3 linked regions of the Homo sapiens genome follow. The gene in region 1 interacts genetically with each later gene. Each region holds a gene or a part of one and is shown in the gene's direction. Other genes may lie near its edges. The genes, in order: RB1, RIN1 and DDX19A.

What was found.
Region 2: changes in RB1 (region 1) and RIN1 together harm fitness more than expected from each alone (negative genetic interaction), as found in Homo sapiens cells (one large-scale study listed by BioGRID).
Region 3: changes in RB1 (region 1) and DDX19A together harm fitness more than expected from each alone (negative genetic interaction), as found in Homo sapiens cells (one large-scale study listed by BioGRID).

What each region holds. Positions count from the first base shown.
Region 1 is NC_000013.11:48,310,207-48,313,856, forward strand, and holds part of RB1 (retinoblastoma-associated protein), read left to right. Parts: intron 1-3,650. UniProt on the Homo sapiens protein: Tumor suppressor that is a key regulator of the G1/S transition of the cell cycle. The hypophosphorylated form binds transcription regulators of the E2F family, preventing transcription of E2F-responsive genes.
Region 2 is NC_000011.10:66,329,685-66,333,434, reverse strand, and holds the end of RIN1 (ras and Rab interactor 1), read left to right. Parts: intron 1-25; coding exon 26-177; intron 178-682; coding exon 683-1,159; 3' UTR 1,160-3,194; downstream 3,195-3,750. UniProt on the Homo sapiens protein: Ras effector protein, which may serve as an inhibitory modulator of neuronal plasticity in aversive memory formation. Can affect Ras signaling at different levels. First, by competing with RAF1 protein for binding to activated Ras.
Region 3 is NC_000016.10:70,345,347-70,349,096, forward strand, and holds the start of DDX19A (ATP-dependent RNA helicase DDX19A), read left to right. Parts: upstream 1-1,556; 5' UTR 1,557-1,645; coding exon 1,646-1,702; intron 1,703-3,750. UniProt on the Homo sapiens protein: ATP-dependent RNA helicase involved in mRNA export from the nucleus.

The sequences.
Region 1 (3,650 bases):
GAATGTGATACAGTGTGTTCTAAGAAGCAAATGTAATGACAGAATAAATGTGTTTCCAGTGCAGCTATTCTAGTGGCAGTTGTCTCTCTTCTTTGAAACAAGAGGAGGAATATTGTCAAAAAGGAAACCCTTTTTAACAATAGAAAGTAGGTGATGTTTATTGGGATAGAGGATGGGTTAAGAGCAAGGATTAAGAGTCAAACAGATATACCATGTCCGAACTCCATTATCTTGAACATGTTATCTACAATTTTCAAGCCTTAGTTTTCTTACCTGTAAAAGGGACTGACAGTAATTTCTGGATCTTGGAGTTATGTGCAGATTAAATAAATTAATGCATATAAAGCTCTTATTAGAGTCAATGAGTATGTATATTAGGTCTTGCAAACAGAATAATTTTACTTAAGAAATACCCCAGAAAATTTTATCATTGATGTATTTTTTTTTAGGAGAACTTAGGATATCAGTTAAAATGGTTACAATTTTAAATGCATTGTAGTGATTTTGATGTAGTAATGTTTGTTAAAATTCTTATTTTTAAGTACTTTAGCATCAGAAAAGTTGTTTATGCATACATGAAAGCATATATTAATCCCTTTAAAGGAAAAGTTTGTGGTATTTTGTCTAGAAAAGTGTTTTCTTTTTTTAAAATAAATATTTAGTAAAGTGTAATAATAAAGATTAGCTTTGTTCATAAGGTTAGATTGTATTTATGCTGATTATAGCATATGAATAGGACTTTCCATTAAGAAATTGGCTAAGGTGATGTTCATATTGTGACTTAAGGTGAATCAGCTGTTAGAATTTTGGTTTACTTTCTGCATCTTGATTGGTAGTATGGTAGAATGGAAAATGCCTTGGACCTCAAGGCAGGAAACTTTGGTTGTAATTATATTGTAGCTATATGATTTTAGGCAAATTGGTTAATTCTGTGAGTCTCAGTTTGCTCACCTGTAAGGCAGAAATAATGCCTGAATGTGAACCTCATAGGCTTTTTGTTATACATACATATATATGTATATGAAATGTATGATATACATATCTCAAAGAGCTTTGGGATATATTGCTCTTGATAGAACCACTTACTTATTTTTGTGATATGGTGGTTATATTTTAAATAAATACAGTCATGTGTTGCTTAACAATGGGAACACATCTGAGAAATGCATCATTAGGTGATTTCATCGTTGTGTGAACATCATAGCATGTACTTACACAAACCTGGATGGTATAGCCTATGACACACCTATGCTGTGTGGTATATAGCATGTTGCTCCTAGTCTGCAAATGTGTACAGCATGTTACTGTACTGAACATTGTAGGCAATTGTAACACAATGGTAAGTATTTGTATATCTATACATAGAAAAGGTACAGTAGATCATCCATATCCTTACTGATTTTCTTTCTATGTGTTTTACTAATTATTGAGGGAGAAATATGAAGCCTCCAACTATAATTAGAATGGTCCTTTTAAATTCTGTTTTTTATTAATGTATTTTTTATTTTATTTTATTTTGAGATGGAGTCTTGCTCTGTCACCCAGGCTGGAGTGCGTGGCACGATCTCGGCTCACTGCAACCTCTGCCTCCCGGGTCCAAGCGATTCTCCTGTCTCAGCCTCCCGAGTAGCTGGGATTATAGGCATGCGCCACCACACCCGGCTAATTTTTGTATTTTTAGTAGAGACGGGGTTTCACCGTGTTAGTCAGGCTGGTCTCGAACTCCTGACCTCATGATCTGCCCTCGGCCTCCCAAAGTGCTGGCATTACAGGCGTGAGCCACTGTGCCTGGCCTTTATTAGTGTATTTTAAAGCTTTATCCTTGGGTACATACAAGTTTAGAATTTTTATGCCTTTTAGGTAAATTGGTACCTTTATCATTATGTAATGTGCTTTTTTATCCAAATTTATATCTTTTGTTCTGCAGTGTCCACATATCGATTCCACTTTTCTTGTGATCACTCTTTACAATGTGTATCGTTTACCTTCATTTTGATTTTAACCTATTTCTTTTTTATATTTAAATGGATTTTTGTTGTTTTGTAATCAGCATTCATTAAAAATTTTTAGCTGAATACTTTTTACTTTTGTTAGGGTTCCCTGTGTCTCTTCCTTTCATGTTGTGCCACAGATGAGCCATTATTTATATCTTTTCTCTCATTGGAGGTTCCTTTTTTTAGGGGAAATTAAATAATCTGAAATATAAGGAAAGGATATGTTGATTTCAAGAAAGGTTGTTTTTGTTCCTTATCTGGCTTGTTCTTGTTGTGAGGGTGGGAGCAATACTCTTTGCAGCTTTCTGCATTCTAGGAAGAAGTGGAATTTTACACTACCATTTGCTTTCTTTACAGGTTTACCTTGGTATTCAGTGTCTGTCCATAGGACTAATTAAAACTATACCAGACTCCTTCTATTTTAAACCTATCCGTTCAGTCTCAAGTTATCTTTTTGCATTGCCTCTCACGTCTGTCCCTTCATTTCTTTTACCAGCAGTGCTTGGTTTTTACTGTTTGCTTTGGTTTTAATTTCCTTTTTATTTTTTTAATTTCAGAAGGTGGAAGCTTATGTCATTGACTTGAGCATTTTTTATGCATGTTTTAGTGCCTCTTTCTGACTAGTCTCTTCTTTTCTCCATCCAATCCATCCTGTGCCTGATTTTTAGAAAAGACTGGTGTACAGTTTGCCCCTTTTGCTTTAAAATTTATTTTTCATTGTTACAACCCACTCTCAGTAGCCTCCATTGTAACACCCTCCCATGCTCCCACCACCATTATGAAGAAGTAAAGTCCAAACTTTCTCAGTATTTGTAGTTCTTCATGGTCTGTGCTTTAACCTTCCTTCCAGTCTTATTTTTTATTTCCATTGTTGGCCCCCAATGCCTGTGTTCTCTTCCCTTCCATATGAATCTTCCATATGAATATCTTCCATATGAATATGATAGTATTCATATTCATGCGATCTCCCCTTTTTTTGGAATACCCTTCTTTTTTCTTTTAGCCTAAATTCTGTTTTTAAGATGCAGTTAAAGCTTCTCCTTTATGCATATCTCTTATAAGATATATTATTTGCAGACTTTTCCCCCCATTCTGTGAGTTGCCTTTTCACTTTCTTGATGATGTCATTTGCAGCGTAGGATTTTAATTTTGATGAAGTCCAGTTTTCTATTTTTTTTTTGGTGGTGGTTTTTTTTTTGGTTGCTTGGGCTTTTGATGTTGTATCTAAGAAGGCCTTGACTAACCCAAGGTCATGAAGACTTATTCTGTGCTTTCTTCTAAAAGTCATATGGTTTTTAGTTCTTGTCAGTCTTGGGTTTTTTTTTGTTTTTTTTTTTTGAGTTAATTTTTGTGTATGATGTGAGGAAGAGGTCTAACTCCAGTCTTTTGAATGTGGATATCCAGTTGTCTCTGCACCACTTATGGAAAAGACTATTCTTTCTTCATTGAATTGTTTTGGTGCCCTTGATGAAAATCAGTTGACTATAAAAACCAGGGTTTATTTCTGGAGTCTCAGTTCTATTCCATTGCTCTGTATGTTTATTCTTTTTTTTTTTTTTTTTTTTTGAGACGGAGTCTCGCTCTGTCGCCCAGGCTGGAGTGCGGTGGCACAATCTCGGCTTCCTGCAAGCTCCGCCTCCCGGGTTCATGCCATTC
Region 2 (3,750 bases), on another chromosome or scaffold:
CGTGTTCTTCCACCCTGTGTCCCAGGTGGCTACTACCTGACCAGCCTCTCTGCCAGCCTGGCCCTGCTGAGTGGCCTGGGTCAGGCCCACACCCTCCCACTGAGCCCCGTGCAGGAGCTACGGCGCTCCCTCAGCCTCTGGGAGCAGCGCCGCCTGCCTGCCACCCACTGCTTCCAGGTAACAGGCCCTCCACCGTGTCCTCAGAGCCAGACGCCATCCCCGCCTTTCACCTTCCTGTCCTTGGTGAAGAGTCCAGACTCTGTAGACAGATCCTGGGTTCTAATCCTGGCTCTGCCACTGGGTTGTGGGGACTTGGGCGAGTTACTTAACTACTTCGTGCCTCAGTTTTCTCATCAGTAAAATGGGGTAATAGGACCTACCTCCTGGGGTTGAGGTGAAGATTAAATGAGTTAATGCAGGAGAGTGCTTGGGGCACAAATTACTCACTATCAAATCTTCATCTCAGGCTTGTGAGCGCCCCACTGGGCTGTCCTTGCACCTGCGGCTGTGGCCCACAAGCCGACCCCTGGAGCACATAGAGCTTTTGCCGCTTGGTTCTCCCACTGGATCTCCACCTACCCACCCTGTCCCTGCACAGCCCAGAAAGCTGATGTCTCAGCTTTGGAGCCAGATGCATGCCAGCCGGGGCTGAGTACTTGTTTTTGCTTCTCCTCCTGCATAGCACCTCCTCCGAGTAGCCTATCAGGATCCCAGCAGTGGCTGCACCTCCAAGACCCTGGCCGTGCCCCCAGAAGCCTCGATTGCCACCCTGAACCAGCTCTGTGCCACCAAGTTCCGAGTGACCCAGCCCAACACTTTTGGCCTCTTCCTGTACAAGGAGCAGGGCTACCACCGCCTGCCCCCTGGGGCCCTGGCCCACAGGCTGCCCACCACTGGCTACCTCGTCTACCGCCGGGCGGAGTGGCCTGAGACCCAGGGGGCTGTGACAGAGGAGGAGGGCAGTGGGCAGTCAGAGGCAAGAAGCAGAGGGGAGGAGCAAGGGTGCCAGGGAGATGGGGATGCTGGGGTCAAAGCCAGCCCCAGGGACATTCGGGAACAGTCTGAGACAACTGCTGAAGGGGGCCAGGGTCAAGCCCAGGAAGGCCCTGCTCAGCCAGGGGAACCAGAGGCAGAGGGAAGCCGGGCAGCAGAGGAGTAGCTTGAAGTGGCCAGAAGGGTCATTCGGGGCGGGAGACCCTGAGCCTGCTGAGAAATCCTTTTAGCGCCAGCAAGCCCCACCCAGGGCCCTGTCCTGTGTCTGCCACCACCTTTGTCTGATACTTGTTTCCAGGGAAGCTGGGGGAACTGCCACATCTGAGGAACTGGAATAAAGATGAGGGGGCTTCGGGGGCCCCCAGACTGTGTGCCCAAGGCCCCTTGCCTCTTGTTCTTCTCCCCCAGCTGAGGGTGAGCCAGCCTGCAATGAGGGTGTGCCAAGTGGGGGCGAATCCGACAGATGCCCAACCTCTGACGTGGGGAGGGTGACGGTCTCAGCTCCTTTTACCCTTCCCCTCATGGGCATGGCTGAGGCAGGGCTCCACCCAAGTATCTCCCACCAGGCTGGGACTTCCAGACCCTAAAAGGTTCCAATGGCTCTTAGGTGTCAGGAGGATTTAGAGAGGCCACAGAACAGCAGCAAAGGCTTGGGGCCCACCCCTGTCCTGGACACCAGAAGGACCTGCACCTGCAAGCCTCAGTACTCTCATCTGTAAAGTGGGGACACTATTGCTGCCCTGCTCGGCTCCCAGAAGTGTCCCAGTGATCAAAATGGGTGATTTTGCTACAAGCAGAGCTCATGGCAGAAAGGGAGGGAGAGAGCTGGGCTGCTAACTCTCTCCCGGAGTCCGCTCTCTGCCAGACAGGGCTCCCACCTGCTGATGCCCAGTTCAGGGAGGTTATTCCCCTGGAAATCAGGCCCTGGGGAGAAAGTACCCAAGTTACAGTCTCTCCCCAAGATTTGGAGTCCTCCCAGGCCCTCCAGCATCTCTGGGGAGATCCACCAGCTGGCAGATAAGCTTCCAGAATGGAGAGGGGGCTCAGAAACCATGCTCTCTGCACTAAACTCTTGGCCCTCACAAAAGCTTTACTTGGCCATGACTTGTTGGGCCCACTGAGGGTCAGGAAAGTGACTCCCAGGATGTCATATAGCAAGTCCTTAAGGGTTCCCCCGCCCAAACCAGGGCATCAGGTTCCAACTCCACCCTCCATTCTAAGCCACCCACAAAGGCCGGGGCAGCCCCCAAGGAAGCCCAGAGCAGGCAGCAAATCCAAACAAGGAAAAGTGCCGACCACCAACCACGAGGGGGTGTGCACGGCCCGGGAATCTGCCGAGAGGGTGACCACCCAGGGGTGAGGGCGCCTCCAAGGCTGCAGCAGCAGAGGGGGTCCCGGGCCTTGCAGTCCAGCAGCATCAGGCAACCTGGGGACAGCGCAGGGGCCAAGGCCACTGGCCCCCAGGTCCCTTAGATTCTGGGGTCTGGGTAAGGCCAGCCTCTTGGGGGCCATCCCCAGGAAGGAAGGAATTGTCCCCTTATGGAGGATGACCCCAGAGGCTCTCTCCTCGGGCACTGAGCACAGAGGGGACGTCAGCCCAAATGTCAGACATGACAACTGGGAGGTAGAAATCGTGGACATTGGCTTTTTGGGTTTTTTTGTTTGTTTGTTTGTTTGAGATGGAGTTTTGCTCTGTCGCTCTGGCTAAAGTGCAGTGGTGCCATCTCGGCTCACAGCAACCTTCGCCTCCCAGTTCAAGTGATTCTCCTGCCTCAGCCTCCCGAGTAGCTGGGACTACAGGTGTGCACCACCACACCTGGCTAATTTTTGTGTTACTAGTAGAGACGGGGTTTCCCCATGTTGGCCAGGCTGGTCTCAAACTCCCGACCTCAGGTGATCCGCCCGCCTTGGCCTCCCAAAGTACTGGGATTACAGGCGTGAGCTACCACACCCAGCCAGACATTGACTTTCAGATGAGCAGTCCAGATACAGCCCAGTTGCACGGCTCCCATTTTTTTTGTCACTAGGCCACCAGCAGCTCTTCCCTCCCCACTTCCACGCCCTCCCAAGGTTCTCGCTGATAGGAAGTGTCCCGTTGGCTCTTCTATTCCCCTCCCTGTTTCACCACTCACCCCTAGTGCCTCACACAGTCCAATGCTGAGCACAAATGCCATAGGTGTTCAATAAATGTTGTTCACTGATTGGAGTTTGATAACCAGGAGTGAGGGACAGTGAGGCAGAAACCTGGGGAGTATAAGGGAGGACTCGGTTCTGGGAATCAAACACGGGATGTGTCAAGCTCAGTCCCAGAGGAAGGACCTGGAATGTTTGTAGAGGGTGCTCGGAGGATCCCAGGGGCCGGATGTACAACTGGCCTCATGGGAATGAGGCTCTGGGGCCTCTACAAGCCCTTCCCACCCTTGCCAGGCTCAGCATGACCTGACCCCCTCCCTGCCCTCCCCAGTGATGGGGCACCACAGGGAGCTGCTGCCTGGGTCTTGTGGTTTTTCTTCTCAAGAAACTCTGGGCTGGGCCTGGTGGCTCACGCCTGTAATCCCAACACTTTGGGAGGCCGAGGCCGGTGGATCACCTGAGGTCAGGAGTTCAAGACCAGCCTGGCCAGCATGGTGAAACCCCGTCTCTACTAAAAATACAAAAATTAGCCAGGCGTCGTGGCACACACCTGTAGTCCCAGCTACTGGGGAGGCTGAGGCAAGAGAATCACTTGAACCCGGGAGGCAGAGGTTGCAGTGACCC
Region 3 (3,750 bases), on another chromosome or scaffold:
CACTTTGGGCGGCCCAGGCAGGCAGATCCTTGAGCTCAGGAGTTCAAGGCCAGCCTAGCCAACGTGGTGAAACTCCATCTCTACTAAAAATACAAACATTATCTGGGCGTGGTGGCGTGTGCCTGTAATCCCAGCTACTTGGGAGGCTGAGGCAGGAGAACCGCTTGAATCCAGGAAGCAGAGGTTGCAGTGAGCCAAGACCCGGCCACTGCACTCCAGCCTGGGTGATATCTGTAAATAATGGTTCCATGAGTTTAGAAATACAAAGTAGCATGACTTAACAAATTTACACATCTATGTAACCAGGTCCCAATCAAGATACAGAATAATTCTATCACCCAGGAAGTTCTCTTGTGTCTGGACCAAACATCCTTCTCCACAGGTAAGCTCTGTTAGTTTTTATCAGCATAGATTTTATTTGTCCTATTCTTGAATCTCATATAAATAGATTATACATTATGTATTTGGTGGTCCTTCAACATAATGGCCAGGTGTGGTGGCTCATGCCTGTAATCCCAACACTTTGAGAGGCCAAGGCAGGAGGATCTCTGGAGTTAGCAGGAGATCAAAAGCAGCCTGAGCAATATAATGAAGACTTCCGTCTCTGCAAAAAGTTTAAAAACTAGCCAGGAGTGGTGGTGCGGGCCTGTGGGCCCAGCTACCTGGGAGGCTGAGGTGGGAGGTCAAGGGTGCAGTGAGCCGAGATCACACCACTGCATTCCAGCCTGGGCGACACAATGAGACCCTGACTCAAAAAAGAAACGAAAAAACGCATTGTGTGTTGTGTTTATTGGATGGTGGAATTATGGGGTTTACGGGTCTTCTGTTGCGTTTTGGTTTTTGTTTTCTTACCTGTTATCGCGTTCCTAACAGTAGAAATTGGCATCATATAGTATTCTCATGGAACTTTCCTTTGTTCAAAGCCCTACAGTTCAGAGACTTACACATTTAATGTGAGATATGACAGGCTTAAAAAGAAACGTTGGGGGCCGGGCGCGGTGGCTCACGCCTGTAATCCCAACACTTTGGGAGGCTGAGGCGGGAGGATCACAAGGTCAGCAGTTCGAGATCAGCCTGGCCAACATGGTGAAACCCCATCTCTACTAAAAATACAAAAATTAGCCGGGCGTGGTGGCGGGCACCTGTAATCCCAGCTACTCGGGAGGCTGAGGTAGAATAGCTTGAACACGGAGGCGGAGGTTGCAGTGAGTCGAGATCCCGCCACGGCACTCCAGCCTGGGACAGAGCGAGACTCCGTCTCGAAAAAAAATAATAAAATAAATAATAAAATAAATAAAATAAAATAAACGTTGGCTTATTTCAGTGTGAAGTAAGGCAATAAACGGAGGGCTAACAGTTCCACTTCGTAGAGCTCAGACATTTTAAGAAGCGAGGAGGCCGCGTCCTGGAAGGGTGAGCAAAAAGCGCGAGGTTTGCGCACGAAGGGAAAGGCGAGGCCCGAGGAGAGACCTGGCGCCGCGCAGAATGATGATGTCGCACGCTGGGTGGGAACTGACGTCACCTGTGCTCACCGCCGCTTCCGGTCCGCGTGAGGTGCATTCTCGCGCCGGTGGCGAGGTTAGGGCCCGCGTTGCGACGTGGTGCAGCGCATATTTTCACAAGTGGGTCTCCCTTGTCCGGGACTATGGCCACCGACTCGTGGGCCCTGGCGGTGGACGAGCAGGAAGCGGCTGTCAAGTCGGTCAGTAGCTCAGCTCCTGGCGAGGAGGACGTAGCAGGGGCCCAAGCGAAACCTCCCAAAAGCACAGGGAGCTCCCCGGGTTGGGGAGGCCCCTGGGCAACGCGCTCCTGCAGTTTGCTAGGGCAGTCACTTGCCCTTGATTTGCTCTTAGAGCTAAAGAGACCAATGTCGAGCTTTTTATCTCCATCTGGGCTGGTTAAGGACTTCATCCTTTGGTAAATCCGCCCCACTATGCATGCTGTCATTCCTCTATTGACCTCCTCGGTGACGATTATAAGGAAAGCCAAGTTTAGATTCTGATTCTCTTTTTCATTACGCGACTGTTCTTCGCATGTTTCTGTACTACTCTGTATTTAACATTTCTTAGATCCATGCTTAACGTGGTTGGTAGTTTGTAGCTCTTTGCAGAATAACAGATTGACTTTTGGATTTAATACCTCAATCTACTGCAGATGTTGGAAGGAGGCACTACAAATTGTTTCATTGATGTGTAAAGTAACGGTTTCATGTACTTGTTCTTTCAGTAATGAATATTCATTCAACTGGAATGTAATTACAGCATACACTGTGGCTTTCTGTTCTTATATCTAAGACCTAAACTTTAGGTTTGTTTAGTGATAATGGACTGTCTTTTTTTTTGTTGTAGTTGTTTCTCTTTTGAGGCAGAGTTTTGCTCTTGTTGCCCAGGCTGGAGTGCAATGGCGCCATCTCGGCTCACCGCAACCTCCGCCTCCCGGGTTCAAGCGATTCTCCTGCCTCAGTCTCCCGAGTAGCTGGGATTACAGGCATGCGCCACCACGCCCGGCTAATTTTGTATTTTTTGTAGAGACGGGGTTTCTCCATGTTGGTCAGGCTGGTCTCGAACTCCCGACCTCAAGTGATCCGCCCACCTCGGCCTCCCAAAGTGCTGGGATTACAGCCGTGAGTCACCGCGCCCAGCCGGTATGGGGATTTTTGAGAGGGCTATTGACAGAATTAGACAAGGCTGGCAAGGATTTATTGAACTACAGAGAACAGAATATGTTAGAAGTGATGGCTAATAGAAATATCAGTGTAGAAGTTATTCTGATAGCCCCGAGATAGAGGGCCTATGTTGGGCAGTGGAAGTGAAAATTAAGGGATGGGTATAAGATATGAAGGTAGAATGGGTAGGACTTGCTAACATAATAAAGGAGAGAAGGGAGATAAAGCCAAAGGTTTCTGTTTTCAACCTGGATCCTATTGGTACTACTAACGTCCCAATAACAGGAATAGGAAAGTGGGAGGAAGGGCAGATTTGATAGAATGGTGAAGGCAGCCGGGCATGATGGCACCCACCTGTGATCCCAGCACTTTGGGAGGCCGAGGCGGGCAGATCACTCGAGGTCAAGAGTTTGATACCAGCCTGGCCAACATAGTGAAACCCTGTCTCTACTAAAAATACAAAAGTTAGCCAGGCGTGGTAGTCGTCCCCTGTTAATACCAGCTACTCAGGAGGCTGAGGCATGAGAATTGCTTGAACCTGGGAGGTGGAGGTTGCAGTGAGCCAAAATTACGCCACTGCACTCCAGCCTGGGCTACTGAGTGAGACTCTGTCTCAAAAAAAAAAAAAAAAAAAAAAAGAGGTGAAGGCTGGGCACAGTGGCTCACACCTGTAATCCTAGCACTTTGGGAAACTGAGACAGGCAGATCAGTTGAACCCAGGAGTTCAAGACCAGTGTGGGCAACATGGCGAAACCCCATTTCTACAAAAATACAAAAAAAATTAGCTGGGCGGGGTGGTGGTACACTCCTGTAGTCCCAGTTACTCAGGATGCTGAGGTGGGAGGATCACCTGAGCCTAGGGAGGTTGAGGCTGCAGTGAGCTGTGATCACACCACTGCACTCCAGCATGGGTGACGGTGAGACCCTGTTTCAAAAAAAGAAAAAAGGGAATGGTGAGTTCAGGTTTGGCTGTTCTGAATTTAAAATAAGGAAACATCTTGGTAAGTACCTGTTGTGGGAGTCCCCAAGAGATGCCAGGTTTGACGATTTGTTAGGAGAACTCACAGGCTCAGTATGTAGTTGTA